Linked DNA regions of Homo sapiens: region 1 is linked to region 2. Evidence: fine-mapped expression QTL. Tissue or cell type: whole blood. Region 2 holds a variant in brackets; the other region holds the start of a gene. All regions are shown on one strand. Distances are from middle to middle. Region 1 holds the start of PIK3R6 (phosphoinositide-3-kinase regulatory subunit 6). Region 2 has its middle 14 kb from the start of MFSD6L.

Region 1 (10,168 bases), 83 kb before region 2:
GACGCTCTGATAGCTTCAAAATAGAAGCTGTGTTCACACACCCTCAGGAATGGTGGGAGTGGCAGGGGTGGAAAAGTTGGAGGGGGCATAGAGGAGGAGAGGAAGCTGGGGCCAGACTGGGTTGGCGGGACTCCAGGCTGGTCTGCGCGGACCACTGCTAAGGGGAGGGCAGTCAGGAAGGAAGCCCTCGGTGAATGGTGAATGTCGCTCCTGGCTCCAGAGCAGACTGAAGGGGGTCCCCCGAGACCTCTGGGGAAGAGGAGGGAGGGAGCAGAGCGGCCCCCACCCCCACACACCCAAGGAAGGGGCCCTTGCAACCAGGGACCAGAGGCCTTCTCTGAGCAAAACTGTAGCCGAAAGTCTCTGAGGCCAGAACAGAATCGTTTTGGGGCTGAGAAAGCTGAGGAGGGCTTTGCAAACCCAATCTGCAGCCCCTCAGGTTACAGAGGAGGAAACTGAGGCCCAGAGACTGGGAGAGGCCTGCACAGGGTCACACAGAGTGAGAGGCACGTGCCAGGATGAGGGCCCAGCCAGGTAGCCTGGCTTACTTTTGGGGGTGTAGCTCAGTGTGTGCATGCGTGCGTGTGTGTGTGTGTGTGTGTGTGTGCGTGTGCACATGAGTGGGTGTGTGGTCCTGCACATGTTTGGAGGGCAGGCAATTTGCATAAATAATGCAAGTTGGGGTCTTTGCGTTTTCTCACTGATTTCCTGGTTGACCCCAGCCATCTTGATTTGTTCCACTTCCTGGTGTGAGTTCATTTGGAAAAAGAAAATGGAGAGGGTGATATGCATATCATGCAGATGAAGAGACTCCTAACACCTCCCCAGCTCAGCTCCACCAGCAAAAGCCTGTCCAAGGAGGAACCTGCGGTATTAGGGGCAGAGGGAGAGGAAGCAGGGGTCCACTTGGTCTCCCTCTCAAGGCAGCCATGAGAACAGGGGAAATGAGAAGAGACCAGGCCCCGCCCTCCACAGCAACCCCAAAGTGTCTGCCCTCTCACCTCATCACAGAGCTGCCAGTACCAAGGAGTTTGGGAGAGGGGACAGTTGCACCCGCAAAAGAGAAGGAGGAGGTCACAAGGTTTTCTTCACCTGAAGGGCAGCTTTCGGAAGAGGGAGTGACTGATCTTCTCTGTGTCCTTCCCATTTCGAACCCTGTAAATGTGTAACTAGTCCAAACAAACATGTACATTTAAATGTAAGAAAAGAATGTGGTTGATCCTTATGTACCAATATATCGTGATCTTCAAGTAAACAAAGCAAGTTAAAGAGCGATTTGTATGGTGCTCACATGTATAAACTACCCTAAGCTATTTACCATGGTTATCACTGGGTGGGAGGGTAAAGAAATTGAGGAGGGGGAGGAGAGAGACCCTCCTTTTTTCCTCTTAGGGTCCTACAATGCTTGAGTGTTTTTATAATGGAAATATATTTATGGATTACCTAAGTAGTTTTTGTTCTTCTTGTTGTTGTTTGTTTGTGACGAAGTCTTGCTGTGTCACCCAGGCTGGAGTGCAATGGCACAATCTTGGCTCACTGCAACCTCTGCCTCCCAGGTTTGAGTGATTCTCCTGCCTCAGCCTCCCAAGTAGGTGGGATTACAGGCACCGGCCACCATGCCAGGCTAATTTTTGTATTTTTAGTAGAGACGAGGTTTCACCACATTGGCCAGGCTGGTCTCGAACTCCTGACCTCAGGTGATCCACCTGCCTCGGCCTCCCAGAGTGCTGGGATTACAGGCATGAGCCATCGTGCCTGGCCTACTTGACTAGTTTTTTAAACATTACAGCTTAACAAAAAAAGAACATTGATGGCATTTAAAATAAAAACTTCCCCACCACCACCAAAAATAAGAAAAATAGCTGAGAAGGTGACTGGTTGGATATGAAGCATAAATCCGCTTCTTCTATCACCCCAATTAGTCCTGATTCTGCATGCACTCTGCCAAATAACGCTGCTGGAAGTAAAGGATGGAAAATTCCCGAGGTGTGCACTGTTCCTCCCTTTCCACAGCCACAGCAGACAGTACTAGTTGATAACGGATTTCCAGGGCAATGCTGATGCTGCCAGTCCAGGGACTACCCTTAGCGAACCAGTGGCTTAGAGCATGACGCTGTCCTGCCTGCCTCTGGGCCGTGGGCAAGAGCTGGAGGGACTGCACCAGAGGCAAAGGTGCCCCGCAGTTGGGTACTGCCTGTGCCGAGGCAGTGTGTCGAGTCTCACCTCCACCAGGGATGAGAGCGTTTAAACTTAACCTATCTGTGTAACTGTAGCTGACTCACGAGGTGATTGTTTAAACGAATCAAAATGTGTTTTCCTAACAGCTCTTTTCTGGTTTATTACCTCTCACGGTTTTCTAAAAATGGGTCCTGCCAACCAGAGAGCTATCTGTGTGGGTGGCAGTCATGAATTTGGGGTAGAAAAGTGGGGAGTTGAGAATTAGAATGGAATTACAGTGCTCTGAATGGGCTTCGAAGACAATTTGGATATGTCTGTGAAAAAAATCTAGGAGGGAGGAACCGACGCTAATGAGTCAGGGTCACATGGGGAGAAGAGAGACAGGAAAAAGCACAAAAGCCCACCCCATTCCAGGCTGCCCGCTCCAATGGCATGGCATGGAGGAGGGACGTCGGGATCCTCAGAACTATCCACAGAGGATTTTTGAATAGTTTGCCAAGAGACGTGTGATGTACACTCCCTTCATCCTCCTACATAATCTTTAGTAAAATTGACTTTGCTTATTAGTATTTTATGTAAGTGGATTCCTTAGAAAACTGAAATGACAAATTCTGCCGCCTTCGATGCTGAATAATCCCAGAGCAGCTCCCACGGTGGGTGGCACTGCAGGTGAGGACACAAGCGACCCTGGGGACCTCTTTTCCTAAGCATGTAATTCTTGCCTGACTCCAATACTGTGGTCCTGCAGACCTCCGCAATGCTGGTACCTGGCCCTCCTCACCCGTGGCTCTGTCCACAGTTGCAAGAAGATTTAATTTTTGTTTAAAGCTCTCAGTGGCTTTGTAATGGATTAGAAAATGGATGAGGATGGATTGGAAACAGTGGTTCATCTGTAGAGAAGGTAAGTAACTTTGTAACCCCAAGGCGAGTTATGTAAACAGACTTCCAAACACCCTGGCTGAGATAGGAGAACCTGAAGAGAGGCCATTGCAGCTATGCCCAGAAGGGTCACCAGGAGTGGGGACCCTCACTTGGCAGAGGAGGGTGGCAGAAGGAGGAGGAGGAAGGGGAGTGACAATAGATGGTGGGCCTTCTGCTTCTGTATCTTGGGCATTGATCATTCTGGGGGGTCTTTGCCTCCATTAGCTGACCAGGTCATCTGGGAACTAGTACAGTGAAAGCAGGGAACCTTAATTTTTACAGTTCTGATGCTGACGGATCATTTGCCTTTTGGCAGGGAAAGAGGGGGCTGCTCTTTGGAGACTGGTGCAGATGAGAAACCTGGTAAGAGCACAGCCTGGAAAACCCAGATTAAACAAATCCTAAGAACATGGTCTGGAGAGGAAAGACATGGCTGGGATTGGCAAAAGGGGTAGTGCTGCCTTGCCTTGGTGATGGTAGGGACGGTGCACTGGGGTCCGTGGGGGAACTTGGTCCTTCCTATTGTCACCTCCTCCTCCCACTGTCCTTTGTTCCTGGCTGGCGGTCAGCCGTGTGCACTCAAAAATGAAAGCACCCTAGCTCCTCTTTGCAAGGGACAGCTCTGGGGCTCTCTATGGTCACCAAGCTGCCCCCTCTATGGGTACCACAGCAAATGCAGTTGCAGAAATGGCAGCTGATGATAAAGAGAGCAGTGCACCCACAAGAAGTGACCTCGGCTTGTGATTTCCGATTCAGTTAAGCCAAGGCTGATAAGGAGAGGCGCTGCCCAGGGTGGCCACACTGCCCAGCTGCTGCTGAGTCTGGAACCTGCAGGGGCTGAGTTCTTGGTCCTTTATTCTGTCCTGGGCGTATTCGTTTCCTTCGTTCAGTCACCCATTTGCTTCATAAATAAGCCAAGCATTCTCTTAACACTCTTTCACCCTGTGATGGACGGAATAATGAACAACACTCTAGCCCCTGCTCTTTCAGGACTCATTGAGGGAGGAACAAGGCAGACATGTGAGCTGAGAACGCTAATACAAAGATGCAAGATAGAATGTGACTTCAGTCACATGAAGGGGACAGAAAAGAAGCAGTTATGGGAGGAAGGCACAGCAATAGAGTAAATGATTTACATTTCTGGACTTTTTTTCCAAATAGCTTCCTCTGCAAAATGAAAGGTCAGCATAGAACCTAGTCAAGCCCCTACGGGAAAGGATCAGTGACTTCACAGCCCCAAAGCTCTCTGAGTTGAGCCAAGTGACAAACTCCAACAGGCTTAATCCAAAAAAGAATGGAATTTATTGGATCATGTACAATGAACAGTCCAAGAGTAGATTCAGCCCCAGAATTTCAGGCATAGCTGGATCCAGCACTCAAACCCTGCTGTCAGCAATCTGTCACTCTCTAGAGCCATTTACCCATTAGGCCCAACGGGATGACAGCATAGAATCTGTGAGTTTTTCAAAGCTCTAGAAATGTGTCAGAGACTCTCCCAAATAGTGTTTGACTTCAAAATGTGAAAAAAAGAAAATGACAAAGTAGCAAATGTGTCACCATGCGGTTGATCAACTTCCCCCAGCAGGTCTACTGTTCCTGCCCAGCACTGCTCTCTCCTAATTGCCAAGGACAGCAGATGCTTCTTCATTCTCTTCACCTGTGTCCTCTCCACAATCATTGGCGTCGTTGACCATTGTCTCCTCCTTGGCATTCTGTCTTCTGCCAGCATCCCTGGCACTCCACTTTCCTCCTGCCTCTTAGGCTTGTTTTTTTGTTCTTCTCTGATAAATAATGAATGACAAGGGATGAGCCAGGAGAAGGGTTGGGAAGTGATTCCCACAGCCTGGATAGTTAAGAGACTGCAGTACTTCTGGGAGGGGCTGGAGTGAGGGGATAAAGCATGAGGTTGGAGTTTAGGGAGGGACCAGATCAAGAAGGGTCTGGCAAGTCACACTGAGGAGTTTGGCCATTCTCTTTAAAGTAATAAGGAGCCATTGAAGGTTGTAGCAGGAGTGTAACATGAATAGATTTGTGTTTCACTCTTAGAAAGAGACCTTTGGCTGTGGGGTGAAGGACCTCAGGCTATTGTAGTGTTTCAGGAGAAAGACCATGGTAGTCAGGTGAAACAGTGACAGCCATAGGGATGGAAGAAAGTGGAGGATCCATGACCTATTGACAGGGCTTGGTGCAGTTTAGATGTAACAGGCGAGGAAGAGGGAGGCGTTAGGATGATACCGAGGTTGCTGATTCTGAGGCAGGAAACAGAGAAGTGGGCTTAGAGGGAGAAATGATGAGCTCGGTTTGTACCTGTTGAGATGGAGGTGCTTGAGGGACATCTGGCTGGCCATGTCCAGGGGTGGGGGATGGTTGGTGAGTCTGGAGCTTGAGAGAGAGGTCAGGGCTCCCTGCATCAGTCCCTCCCCCGTCAACACCAGAGGGAGTCTCTTGGGAGGTGTCCCCCTCCTGCCCCATAAAATTGGTCACATTCGATCAGAATAAAGGACCTCCAGTGACCGTGGGTCATGCTTCTTTAGAAAGGATCCTCACAGCAAAATGCATTCTGGGAGGAGCTTCGAGGGCCACAAGGAAGGGGAAGGAAGAGGAGGGGACAGAGCTGTGAGACATCGAGCTTTTCTTTGCAGATCTGAAGAGCACAGTCAAGACCACAGACACCCGTGGAGGCTCCCCCAAGACATCTGCTTCTCTGGGACTGGGGACCTCGCTCAGGACCGTGGGGAGTTGGCTGAAGGACTTGGGGAGCCCAGAAGCTGCCACCGAACCAAGGTAAGTGCTGGCTTGGATGGAGATCGCCAGGCAGGCAGATCTGAGCAGAACAGATAGAGGGGTGGAACGGAGGGACCTGGAAGGGGAGCCCCTGGGGGGGCTGAAACACCCCTGGCTCTTATTTATCCAGGCTCAGGGCTGCCAGGGCCGTCTTTCTGAGAAGGGTGACCTCAGACACTGCAGGGTAATTCTGCCAAGTTAAGATTGTTTCAGCCCATTTTCACAAGATGAAAAGACACGGGACCCTGTGAGAAGGACTCTCCTTTCTTCTGGAATCCTGTACATGCTGTTAATAATAGGACTAATGATTGATGCCCGGTGCTGCAGAGTACACCCATTTTCCCATTTGATTCTCACCAGCATTTAGAGGTTGACTGGATAAGTGTTTTAGTGCCATTTTATAGAACAGAAGACTGAGGCTTAGGGAGATGAAGCAACTTGCCAAAGATTGCAGAGTGGGTTAGCAAGGAGCAGGACTCAGTGTGAAACATCTGGGTCCCAGTCTGTGCCCTTTCTGGGACATCATCTGCCCATCACTTTCCTGGGGAATTTGGTGAAAGTCATGCTGGTCTGGCTGATTCTCTTCCTATACACAAATCCAGTATCTTCTATGTGTGCCAGAGTCTGACCGAGGCCTGGTCTCTGTCCTTGAAGGGCTGACTGCTTGCAAAGAGGGTCTGAACACAGCTGCGAGTGACCAACTCAGAACCTTCAGGGTCCTCAGCGAGCCAGGAGGTGTGTGGTGTGTGCAGGATGAAAGAGACTGCAGGGTGCGGGCTCAGGGAGGGTCCCGTGGAAGGTGGTGCCTGGCTGAGGCTCAAGGGAGGACCTGGTGTGCAAAGAGGAGGCAAGAGGCACCTCAGCAATGGGGAGCAAAGTGTGCAAACCCCCAGAGGCAGGAAAGCAAGTGGGAAAGTCAGGTGTTGGGGGGAGCACAGCTAGAGGGGGTGTGTGGAGCACTCGCAGGCCGGTCCTTTTTTGTTGTTGTTGAGACAGTCTCACGCTTTTGCGCAGGCTGGAGTGTAGTGGTGCGATCTCGGCTCACTGCAACCTCCGTCTCCTGGGTTCAAGCGATTCTCCTGCCTCAGCCTCCCAAGTAGCTGGGACTACAGGCACACACCACCACGCCTGGCTAATTTTTTGTATTTTTAGTAGTAATTTTTTGTGTTTTCACCGTGTTAGCCAGGATGGTCTTGATCTCCTGACCTCGTGATCCACCCACCTCGGCCTCCCATAGTGCTGGGATTACAGGCATGAGCCACAGCGCCTGGCCCGGTCCATTTATTTATTTAGCTCTATGTGGTTTTCAAATATCATCTCATTTAGTCTCATGACAAGCCTATGAGGTAGGTGTTGTTGTCAGGTCCCCTTTAAGATAGGGAAACTGAGGCACGGAGGTTTTAAGCAAGCAGCCCAAGTTGCCCTATTAACAGGATTGGAATGCCACCTGCCTGGCCACCATGCCCCGCTGCCTCACACTAGAACCTGCTGCAGGCCCTACACTGTCTCCACGAAAGCGCCTCGGCTGACACGGTGGCTGCAGATGCCAAGCTGCAGTCATCGCCATCTGGTCCCTGCTGCATTCAGGCCCCACCTGAATTCAGATCCCACCAAGCTTCCCTGCCCCTGGGAACAATGCTCCCCCACCCCCACCCCACTGGCTCTTTCATATCCAGGTGTTTCCTTCCAGCCAGAAGCAGACACAGCTGAGGAAACAGGCCTGTCCTTGTCCACGGGGGCCAGCCAGGGCAGCAGGACCCTCACCTCCCGGCTCCTTGGGAATCTGAGAAGTAGACCTCATGGGGGCAAGGGCTAAAGGTTGAGGGGGCCCCCTCAGGACCCAGAGCTCTGTCCTCTCACTCCCTTAGTCCCTCACTGCCAGCTCACTCACCACACGCTCCGATCCAAAAAAAAAAAAAACACAGCTATGACGTCTGGCAAGCCTGAGCTGCCCCTGAAACCCTGAGGGCACGAGGCAGCTCTGGTGGGAGAAGAGGGGAGGCAACAGAGGCAGGTGACCCAGGCTCTGCAGGTCCCCTCTCTCTGTGCCACAGGAGTGGCTGGAGGACAGGAGGCAGACAGAGTGTGGCCCTGGGAAGCTCCCCGTCTTTTCTGCCAGGGCTTTATTCCTGCAGCTGTGGTATAGGGAGGCCTGGAAGCTCCACATCTTTTCTGCCCAGGCTTTATTCCTGCAGGTATAGGGAGGCCTAGGTGGTGGGTTCTTCTGTCTGAACAGCTTGTCCGAGAAGCCAGCAATGGTGAGCTGGGGGGATGGGGGCACAAGGGACAGTCAGATCTGGAATCTTCATGTTCAGAATCTTCAGGTTCAGAAACTCTGAACCTGAGCCAGGCTTCCTCAGATCTTCCTCCAAGCCCTCTTACTTCAGTCTTCTCCTCTATCCAGGAGGTCACCCCCACTTTATCTCACACCAACAACAGGGAGCAGCAGCTGTGAACAGGTGGTCCCCATTTGCTTCTTTTTGCCGTGTCCATAGAAGGCTTCTATGGTTCTGTGGTCAGTCCTTGGGCTTGTTGTACCCCAAGGGAGTGATGAGCTGTGTGTGTGCACCTGGCCTGCGACTTGTTCAGTGCTGATGTTCTGTGTTTAAGGAAGAATGCTCTCTGAATCCCAATTCATTCATCCCTTCATTCTTTGTCTCTGATCTCATCCCTCTGCCAGGAACTGTGAAGGGGCTGGGTGCGGTGGCTCACGCCTGTAATCCCAGCACTTTGGGAGGCCGAGGTGGGTGGATCACGAGGTCAAGAGATCGAGACCATCCTGGCCAACACGGTGAAACCCCGTCTCTACTAAAAATACAACAAATTAGCTGGGCGTGGTGGCGGGCGCCTGTGGTCCCAGGTACTCGGGAGGCTGAGGCTGGAGAATCACCTGAACCCAGTAGGCAGAGGTTGCAGTGAGACGAGATTGCGCCACTGCACTCCAGTCTGGCGACAGAGTGAGACTCTGTCTAAAAAAAAAAAAAAAAAAAAAAAAAAAAGAGCTGTGAAGGACCTGGGTTATAAGTTAGAAGGATCTGTTAGTTATAAGTTAACTTAGAACTAACAAGTTAGCCCACCACAGCTTCATGGTCACCAGCAGAAGACATGAGACTCCAGAGTCAGAGACAAAGAACTCTATTACTCACAGCACAACTAGGAGCATGAACATTGTGATTATAGGTCCCCCTTTCCCCTAAGTCCTAGGGGCGCCGCAAGGAGCCCAATCCAAATGGACTCTGTTGCATCATAGCCCAGGAACCCTGAGCCTAGGAAACCCCAAATTTTCATGACGAGCTGCAAACAAACCTGCCCAACTTTTACCCTGAAAGGAGACATTATCTCTATTATATTGACAGCAAATTAGTCTTCTGTCCTAGAATGGACAGTATCTTCCAAGGCTGTTTGCTATACAAACGTATTTGAAAAGATGGTGCAGAAGAATGCTCACCAGGCATGCACAAACAGAAACCTATGGAGAATTGTCTCCCAACATCTTCCTAGTGTCCCCCACTCATTGCACCCCAAACGCTGTCCCTTAAAAACACTGGGCACCCTTGCAACTCAGGACTTGGCTATTCTCTTTGCTTAGAGCGTTCTTCCTGCAGATACCGCATGGCTTGCTGTCGGGCCTTTTTTAGGTTCCCACTCAAATGGCACCTCCTCAGGAGATCTCTCTCATCATCCTTTTGGAAACTGGCCGGGCGCGGTGGCTCACGCCTGTAATCCCCAGCACTTTGGGAGGCCGAGGCGGGTGGATCACGAGGTCAGGAGATCGAGGCTATTCTGGCCAACATGGTGAAACCCCATCTCTACTAAAATACACAAAATTAGCTGGGCGTGGTGGTGTGCACCTGTAGTCCCAGCTACTCGGGAGGCTGAGGCAGGAGAGTCGCTTGAACCTGGGAGGTGGAGGTTACAGTGAGCCGAGATCGCACCACTGCACTCCAGCCTAGGTGACAGAGCGAAACTCTGTCTCAAAAAAAAACACACACACACACACTTGGGGGTTGGGGGAAATAGGGAGATGCTGGTCAAAGGGTATGAAGTTTTCATTAGATGGGAGGAATACGGTTTCTGAGATTCATTGCACATTAGGGTGACTATAGTTAATAATGGTGTATTGTATATTTCACAATTACTAAGAGAGTAAATATTTCAAATGTTTTCACCAGGAAAAGGATAGGTATTAGATGGATATGTTAATTAGCCTTATTTCATCACTCCACATTATATACGTCTATCATAATATCACTTTGTACCCCATAAATATATGCAATTATAATAT
Region 2 (10,168 bases):
ATATCAGATTTTTCATGCTGGTCACATTTCATGGATAAAACAACAACAACAACAAAACAGTCACTGGCCTCAGGTTAATTAAACAGATGAACCTGCTTGAGGCAGATTTTCTGCCAGATATCTTCCCAATGTCCCAAATTAGGAAACCTCCTTTCTAATTTCGTCTTCCCTTTACTCCATGACCTGTGATTTTGCTGTCACGAGCTTCCCGAATTCTCTTCACTTTGCCCCTTCTCCTTGTTGAGCCCTGCAGGCTTCTGTCTTTATGCTGGCGGCACCCTGGGGTGAGGTGTTGCAGAGTCAGAGGCTGTGATAGAGGGAAGTAAGTTCAGAGTGAAGGCCCTGGGCTCAAGCGTTCTTCAGGTCACCCTTCCTTCATAAGTATGTACTGAGCAAGGCTGTGATCCTTCAGGGTGCTGGGTGAGTCTTTAGGAACGCGTCTACCACTCCCTCCTGCATAACGTCACCAGATGCCTCCCACATCTTCCCGGGGTAATTAATGTCACCTCCCAATGGCTTTATGCCATTCTGCACATTTTGTTCACAGGGCCGCAATCATTGTTTGGGGATGCACATGTGAACTACCCCCCCCGTCCGATCGGAGTAACACTCAACGGACTCTCTCCCTTGGATATGAGGCCGATGCTACCCACCCTGCCTATTTGTGCAGATGTGAAACCTTGAACTGCACTTTGTTTCTATGACAAAGCCTGCCTGGGAACAATACTGACAATTTAGAAGGAAAGGCCGAACCACAAAACCATGTCCACAAACAGAATGGGACAGGACAACGTAAATGTCAAGTGAGAAGTTTAAATAGTGAGCATTTCTCTCTGGGCAGACAGGACAGCTGAGCGCAGGGACCTTCTGAAAAGACCCTCATGGAGTTTATGAAATAAGCCGGCGTATGGAGGAAGGACTGGGTCGTAAAGTCTTAGACTTCAAGCTGTGACTTTCACTCTATTACCTACTTTACCAGTAGGTCAGTTAAGCTTTACAGAATCAAAAGTAAATACAATTCTCAGCTCCTGATCTTGTAGCTGTTAAAGATATTGAGTTTGACCCTCTGACATGTCTTGGTTCCAGCTAAGAGGAATGTAAATATTGAATGAGCCATTAACCATCATGCTCAGGTTTACTTAGACCACTATTTCCCAACTGAGTTTTGCAGAACATGCAATCCTAGTGGTGTGGAGGGTTGGGGAGAGCATTACATAAGGATTCTGTCTGTGGTCAAACAACTTTGGAAAATGATGTTAATTATTGTCACCTTTTAGAAACTTGCAATACCTGTTAGCAATTAAAGACTCTCAAAAGCCTGCAGTCAACAAACTTGTTTCTCTCTCTTTGACCTATAATTCCCCTTATGTGGTGTCACAGCCTTCTTCGCATGTAACACTAATCACGATCTTTCAGAACTAGTGTTCCCTAGAAGACCCTTTGAAAAATGCCATTTGTAGTTTTCTGGATGATCTTTTCAACCCAATAGAGTTGATGCCAGGGACAAATCTGGGCTCCCACACCCAGACTAGCAGGAATCTTGTGCGTCGGGCTAATAAGAGGTGGACAAAGCTTATCTCATTAAGTCAGACCATCAAATTTATGAAATAAGATATTAGTATGGCCTCATTGTACAGGTGACTTGACTAAGGTTCAGAAAGGTTAAAATTCGAAACTAGATCTATCTGACCACAGAGTCCGTCCTCCCAACTGCTACATTCAACCAACTCAGGCAAGTGAAGAGGCTCTTCCTAGCAGGGGAGCAATGATCAGGGATAGGGGCACAATAGAGATAACACACCAGATACGCGTGTAGATTTCACAGGAGATTCATGGAAAATAAAGTTGGAAAGAAGTGTTGGAACAGATTGTGAACTTCCTAAGCCTCAATCTAAGGGAAACAGAACTCACACTGGTTGAAATTTGCTTCTGCTCTTTATGCCTCACACCTGCACACAGCAATACTCATAATCCTCATACTAATCTCAATTTACAGTAGGGGAAACCAAGGCTCAGAAAGGTCAACTGACTTAGTTGCCCATGGTTGCGACTATTAGATGGTAGAGCCATGGTTTGAACCCATATCTGGCTGCTAGAAATCCACGGTTGTTCCTCTGAAGACTATGGGGCCTCTAGAAGAGAAGATTTGACTAGCCAATGGAGAGGACTGAAAGCTTTTAACTCTTGCCTGTTGCGAAGTGAACAATGAGTCTGAGTTGGTGGAGATTATGGGTGCTGAGACATTTGTTTTGGACAGACCACCACAACATTCCAGGCAAGAAGAGGCTGCATCCCAAAAGGTATGAGAATCAAATGACAACATAGTATGTGTATTGGAATTTCAAAAGTGGAATCAACAAGACAGCCCTTGGTTGTTTATTGGATAATGGGGCCGCGGGGATCAACGAAGAAGGAGTATCAAGGATCGTGGATGATTTTGTAATTTTGAACCCATGTGATGAGGAGGAAATTCTGCAGAAATGGCAGAGCCCGGGAGCCCATGAAGCCATCCATCCAAAACCTGAAACCAAAGCTCAGATCATAAGAATTATAGACAATACAGGCCGGGTGCGGTGGCTCACGCCTGCAATCCCAGCACTTTGGGAGGCCAAGGCCGGCGGATCATGAGGTCAGGAGATGGAGAGCATCCTGGCTAACACAGTGAAACCCTGTCTCTACTAAAAATACACACACACACACACACACACACAATTAACCAGGCGTGGTGGCGGGTGCCTGTAGTCCCAGCTACTCAGGAGGCTGAGGCAGGAGAATGGCGTGAACCCGGGAGGCGGAGCTTGCAGTGAGCTGAGATCGCGCCACTGCACTCCAGCCTGGCAGCCTGGGCGACAGAGCGAGACTCCTTCTCAAAGAAAAAAAAAAAGAATTATAGACAATACAGCAAAAACTCCTCATCTGCTAGCTTCCTTCTACAATTGCTGACTGTCACTGAGACCAGAAGCCCTGCCACTTGGTGATGTTTGTGATGTGGAGCAAAGCAGAAGGCATGCTCAGCATCCACTGGCTTTCCACAGCCATGTTCATGAAACCTTTATCTTTTTGCTAGCCTGGCTGTGAAATGGCTTGGAGACATGAGGCTCCACTGGACTGAAGTTCTTTCCAATCCTGGGAGCCTGCGGTGCACGACAGAAACGTGACTGGTGAGGTGTTGCTGTGGTTTGAATATTTGTCCCCTCCAAAACTCATGTTGAAATTTAATCCTCTATGTGACAGTATTGAGAGGTGGGACCTTTAAGAGGTGAATGGTTCATGAGGATGCTGCCATCATGGATAAGTGAATGGGTTAATGAATTAATGGGTTATTATAGGAGTGGGGCAGGTGGCTTTATAAAGAGAGAGACCTGAGCTAGCATGCCTAGCCCCCTCGCCACGTGAGGCCCTGCAACACTTCGGGACTCTGCAGAGAGTCCTCAGCCTGAAGGCCCTCACCAGATGTGGCCCCTTCACCTTGGACTTCTCAGCCTCCGTAACTTTAAGAACTAAATTCCTTTTCTTTCTAAATTACCCAGTTTCAGGTATTCCATTATAAGCAACAGAAAACGGACTAAGACAGTTGTCATCTGCTACAGAAGTAAAACTTAAAATATGACCCCTGGGCAAGTCACTTACCCCACTGGGTCTCAGCTCCCATGTCTGAAAAATGAGGGCCTTGGTCTCTGTGACCTTCTAAGTTTGTGCCTCTCGGCCTTGACGTGATTCCCTCCTTTGGGCCAAGGGCACACCAGCCCTTCTCACCCTGCAGAATAGCATAGCATTCTGGAACCCGAGAGATGCTGGGGCCTGGAATGAAGGTTCATCTCCTTCCCCAGAACCTGGCAGAAAGTTCCTGGTCTGTGTGCAGAAGGACCACATTGAGCCAAGACACCAGCCCTATAGGCCAATCGATCTGCCCTCAAAGCCAGGGTCTAGGGAGTGGTGGGATGAGCCAGAGGGGGCAATCTGTGGTGACTGGAACTTGGTGTCTGGTCGAGGCCTGCAGCATGGGGGGCTACTGCGGAAGGCAGAGGTCTGGGTAGGCACCTTCAGGGCGGGGCACCTTCCTATTGGCACTCAACGTTCCCTTTAGCTTTGTTCATGTCGACCCCCATAGGCTGCAGTTTTGGACACTTGCATCCCCTCTGCCCTTTGCAAGGGGCAGGCCACGCTCTTGGGACTGGAAAGCTATTTTCTGCCTCCACACGGGGGTGGAATGGCTGTAAGCGGGGACTGAAGAGGACTTCTGAAAGCAAACCGGGACAGGAAGGGAGAGGATTCGACCAGGGGTTCCGAAGCTCTCCACCAGGGAGCGCCAAACACAAGGGAAAACTAGCGTCCCTCTTCATTGGGCAAACCTGGTCCCTATTCCCTTCCCAAAGCTGCAGCTCAGGATGAGGCCGGCAACCTGAAGGCCCTTTAGTTCTTGGAGCTTGGAATTACAG[A/G]AAACCCCGAGGATCAGGTGCTGCTGCTGAGCTGGCTTTGTGAGAGACAGGAGGCGAGGCCAGGGTCTGGGAAAAGGGAGCAGCTGCAAAGGCTTCCAGTGGAATTGGCAGATCAGCCTGGCCAGCCCAGACAGCCTCTGGCAGCCTTTCCTGAGGATATGGACGACCCTGATGCTACTTTTGTCTTGATCAGTGTAAATGTGAAGAAACAGGATAAATAGCTGCATGTACTTTTTGAGTTTCCTAGGGCTGCCGAGGGACCACCTGAGGTCAGAGTCACAATAATAAAACCAATTTCACAGACCCTCACCTCCTGCTCCTCAGCCCCATCCCCTTCCAAGCCTGGCTGCCCAAATCTCATCAGTGTATATTCCAGTGCCTGCAGAGAGAGGCTCACAAGGATTTACAAATAAGTCCTATCTCACCAGGCACTCACTGGATCTCTGTCACCATGGAAGAGATGAGAAGATTCCAAGAAAATTCCAAGACCCTCCACTATCATATCAACATGTTACAATTTTCCTCTTTCAGGAAGCATGTGGCATCCAGAAACAGTGCTTCTTCCTATTGTTCTTGGCAAATTACATCAAAATCTGTGTGCTCTTAGCCCAGAAAAGAGATGACACTTCCAGGAAGGAGAGAATATAGCACCTGCTTTTGGCTAAAGCCCCTCTTCTCCAAGGTTGTACTGGCAGGTTTTCTAAATTTTGATTAGAGAATAGTGAGAAGCTTGCCCTTGGAGAGGTGAGTTAGGTAAGAGAGCTATGATTGGATGTCACCACTGAACCTACCTGAAATGAGGTAAGAGAGTTGGGAATGGATCCCACCAGAGGCCCATCATTTTTATGGCAAGTCATAAGAGGGATCTGAATGTCTCCCCCCATGACAATAGCTGTCCCATCTTGCCTTGGAGCTTGGCTGTCAGCAGCAAATAAACCTCACTGTGTCTGTCCCTGGGACTAGCGAGTCAGACCAACTCAGGGGCTCAAGGTGTTTGGATATTTGAAGAAGTCTTGCCTTCCACAGAAGACCAGAGGTTGTGTGGTGATATCTGAATTTTGCTTAGCATTGTCTTGAACAGGAACTAAAGAAACATTTCAAGAAGAAAACAATTGCTTTTAAAAACTTAACTCTTCTTTGTCATTTGGTGCTCAGAAATCTTTGTCTCATTGCAAACAAAAGAAACTAAGTAAGGGCAGTCTTGGAAAGAAGACGCACCAGGTACCATTACTGCAGTCATACTGAGGCCCACCACCACCACGACTACCACCAATGGAAACGAGAGATGGGGTTCAGATGTGGATGACAAAGATGTGGATGACAAAGGTCTAGCATCAAAGGACAAAATCAACAGAAGTGAAGAGGCAACCTATGGAATGGGAGAAAATATTAGCAAATCATACATCTGATAAGGTGTTAATATGCAGAATATATGAAGAACTCTTAAAACTCAACAACAAAAAAACAAACAACCTGATTTTTAAATGGGCAAAGTACTTAAATAGACATTTCTCTAAAGAAAATATACAAAAGACCAGCAAGCTCATGAAAAGATGCCCAACATCACTAATCATTAGGGACATGCAAACCAAAACCACAATGAGATACCATCTCTCACACTCATTAGGATGGCTGCTATGAAAAACAAACAAAAAACGAACAACAACAACAAAAAAAAAACAGGCCAGGCACTGTGGCTGGCTTGTAATCCCAGCACTTTGGGAGGCCAAGTTGGGCTGATCCCTTGAGGTCAGGAGTTCACCTGGCCAACATGGTGAAACCCAGTCTTTACTAATAATACAAAAATTAGCTGGGCCTGGTGGCACACACCTGTAATCCCAGCTACTCAGGAGGCTGAGGCAGCAGAATCACTTGAACCTAGGAGGCAGAGTTTGCAGTGAGCAGAGATTGGACCACTGCACTCCAGCCTGGGTGACGGAATGAAACTGTGTCTCAAAAAATAATAATAATAATAATAAGTGTTGACAAGGATGGAGAAATTAGAACACTATGAACTGTTGATGGGAAAGTAAAATAGTGCAACCACTATAGAAAACTGTAGGGTTCTTGCTAAAAAAAATTAAAAATAGAATTACCATATGATCTAGCATTCCCATTCCTGAATATATACCCAAAAGAATGGAAGGCAAGGTCTTGAAGAGATATTTGTACATGCATGTTCATAGCAGGATTATTCACAGTAGCCAAAATGTGGAAGTAACCCAAGTGCCTATCAACAGATGAATGGATAAAAAGTGTGGTATATACATACAAAGGAATATCATTCAGCCTTTAAAAGGTTTCAAATGTTTCCTCTGTTCTTTTCTTTTTTTCTTCTCCTGTATTCTCATTACATGTATTTATATGAATAGCTTTTGTAGCTATCCCACAGTCCTAGGATGCTCTGTTTGGTTTTTCTTTTTTAGTCTCTTTGCACTTTGCTTTTTTTTTTTTTTTTTTTTTTTGAGATGCGGTCTCGCTCTTTCACCCAGGCTGGAGTGCAGTGGTGCAATCTTGGCTCACTGCAACCTCTGCTGCCCGGGTTCAAATGATTCTCCTGCCTCAAGCCTCCCAAGTAGCTGTGATTACAGGCACCTGCCAGCACGCCCAGCTAATTTTTGTATTTTTAGTAGAGACAGGGTTTCACCATCTTGGCCAGGCTGGTCTGGAACTCCTGACCTCGTGATCCACCCACCTCAGCCTCCCAAAGTGCTGGGACTACAGGCGTGAGCCACCGCACCCGGCCTTGCACTTTGCTTTTCAGTTTTGGAAGTTTCTTTTGAGATATCCTCAAGCTCAGCGTTTCTTTCCTCAGCTGTGTCCAGTATACTAATGAGCCTATCTGGGTGGTCTTTATTTCTATTACAGTGTTTTTGATCCCTAGTGTATGTTTTTGGTTCTGTCTTAGAATTTCTATCTCTTTGTTTAAATTGCCCATCTGTTCTTGCATGTTATCTGCTTTATCCATTAGAACGCTTAGCATATTAATTATATTTGGGTTAAATTCCTGATCTGATAATTCCAACATCCCTGTCACATGAGTCAGATTCTGATGCTTTCTCTGTCTCTATATTTTGTTTTTGCCTTTTAGTATGCCCTGTAATTTGTTTTCCCCAGACATAATGTACTGGGTAAAAGAAACTTCTGTTCATAAGCCTTTAGTAATGTGGTGGTAAGGTGTGGGGGAAGAAGAGCATTCTATAGTCCTATGAGTAGGCCTCAGTCTTTTAGTAAGCCTATGCCCCTAGACTGTGAACTTCAGACGTGCTTCTCAGTTGCTCCCCTCTCCCCTTAGGTAAACTAGGATGGTTAGAGTGAACTGGAATTAGGGTTTTCCTTCTCCCACATGGAAGGTTGGAGGAAATTAGAGTTGAGTATTTCCCTTCCTCCATGTGGAAGCTACAGCTGGTTGGAATTGGATATTTTCCTTCCCCTAAGTTAATTACGCTCTGATAAAAACCCAGCAGGTTAGACTGGTTAAATAGTTTCTCCTAGAGGAAGGCTTTGTTGAAAAGAATGGAATGCATTGGTATTTCCAAATAGCTTCTTTTCCCATCCCCAGGATGGAAGCATGAGGGAAATTTTCTCAAATTATTCACTGTGAGAACCTGGTAGAGCTCCAGGAGGTAAAATTCACCAGAGTGTAGGGACCCCCTTATGCCTGGGTACCCCTGGAATATTTATCTCTCAGACTTGTCCATGCCGAGCCTCCAGCAACTCATCAAGTACAATGCCGGTTTCTACTTGTGAGTTTCTGCTTCCGTATGTTTTGATTCTCTGTATTCACCTCTCTGTCTCTCCAATCTTGGGAGCACTGGTTTATCCTGTGACATCACTTGTCTCACAGATCTAAGAAGAGTTGTTGATTTTCCAGTTTTTTCAGCTTTTTACTTGTTAGGACAGAGTGGTTACTTCCAAGTTTCTTAACATGCCAGACCACAAACTAAAAGTTCTGCATTTTCAAAAGTGTTAACCTCTGAGGGTTTTCTAGTTGTGATCGTGACCTTTGGTTCCAACTCAATTTTAACCAAAGTCAAATCAAAGTGTTTGAAGCTTAAAACTCATATTTCCACAATATCCTTTGCCCAGTTTTTGTTCTGTTTCTTGTCTTTTTTCATGTGGTTTTGCAGAAGTGTGTTGTATAATCTAGATATTAATCCTTTGCTGATTTTCATTTCGGAAATATCTTTGCCCAGTCTGTCACTCATTTGTTAACTTTGGTATATTTTTTTGAACAGAAAATCTTATTTTGATGTAATCAAAGTTTTTTATTTTCCCATTACAATTTATCTTGAGGATCTTAAGAATCTCTCTTGCTACAAGGATTCTAGGGAGAAAAATAAAATAAAATAAGAATCTCTCTTGCTACCCCCCCCACTTCCAAGTTAAAAAGATACTACATTTTCCATATTAGCTTTTAATTTTAAACTCTCATTTTAGGTCTTTAATTCATTTGGAATTTCTTTTGAATAGACTTAAGATAGGGACCCACCTTTATATTTCTCCACTTAGCCAGTTTTCAAAATGCTATAGACTAAATAATCCACTCTTCCTCTATGATTTCTGGCACTACATCTTTATACTTAAGTCTGCTTTTGAGTTCTCTAGTTTTATTAATCTATTTGTCCCTGCACTAATATCACACTAATATCACAGTTAGCACTTGGCTTTGTAATGTCTCAATATTTGGTAAGGTGAGTCTTTCCTCTTTACTCTTCTTTTTTAGGCTTTATTCTCCCTTATAAATTTTACAGTAAGTGTTTCACTTTCCCCCAAAAAAATTCTGGAAATTTTATTGGAACTGCATTGAATTCGTACATTAATTTGGAGGGATTTGGCATCCTTACATTGTTAAGCCATTTATCTATGAATATAGTATGTATTTCTATTTATTATTATTATTATTATTATTATTTTCTTTTTTGAGACGGAGTCTCGCTCTGTCACCCAGGCTGGAGTGCAGTGGCGCCATCTTGGCTCACTGCAAGCTCCACCTCCCGGGTTCAAGCCATTCTCCTGCCTCAGCCTCTAGAGTAGCTGGGACTACAGGCACCTGCCACCACGCCCGGCTAATTTTTTGTATTTGTAGTAGAGATGGGGTTTCACCATGTTAGTCAGGATGGTCTCAATCTCCTGACCTTGTGATCCACCCGCCTTGGCCTCCCAAAGTGCTGGGATTACAGGCGTGAGCCACTGCGCCCGGCCTCAAAACTTCTTTATGTCCTTTAATAGTTTTAAATTTTGCTCCACAAAGATCTTATGTAGTTTCATTATATAAGGTCGTAAGTACTTGACAGTTTTTTATGCTATTGTAAAAGATCATTTTGTATATTTTTATATTTTCTAATTGGTCATTGACAGTGCAAACAAACCCTATCAGTTTCTGTATGCTGGGCATCATCTCCAGCCATCTTGCTGAACTCTGTTTTTAGTTCTGACTCTCTATCTCTTAATTCTGTTGTGCTTACTATGTAAATAAACATTTCATCTGCAAATAATCAATTTTGCCTTTACCCTGCTAGCACTTGACCCTCTTGTTGTTATTGGTGGTGGCAGTGGTGGTGGTTTTCATGGTCTTGGTGTGTTAGCAAGGAATTCCAATGCCATGTTGAATAGTAGTGGTAGAGTAACCATTTTTGTGTTCTCAACCTTAAAAAGAATCTGTCTAAAGTCTTTGTCTGTTTGTTTGTGTATTTGATTTTTAGAGACAGGGTCTCACTCTGTTGCCT

Evidence for each region. PIP is the estimated chance that this variant, and not a neighbour inherited with it, causes the effect.
Region 1: it holds the start of PIK3R6, and the variant in region 2 is fine-mapped to the expression of PIK3R6 in whole blood (TOPMed, PIP 0.97).

The regions. Positions count from the first base shown.
Region 1 is chr17:8,863,244-8,873,411 of GRCh38, reverse strand. It overlaps PIK3R6 (phosphoinositide-3-kinase regulatory subunit 6), which reads left to right and starts at 5,738. Exons shown (of 20, transcript NM_001010855.4): 1 at 5,738-5,883. It overlaps LOC107985071 (a long non-coding RNA gene), which reads right to left and starts at 5,638. Exons shown (of 2, transcript XR_001752787.2): 1 at 5,407-5,638; 2 at 4,379-4,880. RefSeq lists enhancers at 5,610-5,759, 5,790-5,969, 7,793-8,142, 8,253-8,392, 8,443-8,512.
Region 2 is chr17:8,780,133-8,790,300 of GRCh38, reverse strand. No RefSeq gene overlaps it. Among named protein-coding and RNA genes, the nearest start is that of MFSD6L, 14 kb to the left of the region's middle. The variant A/G (reference allele first, on the strand shown) is at 4,440.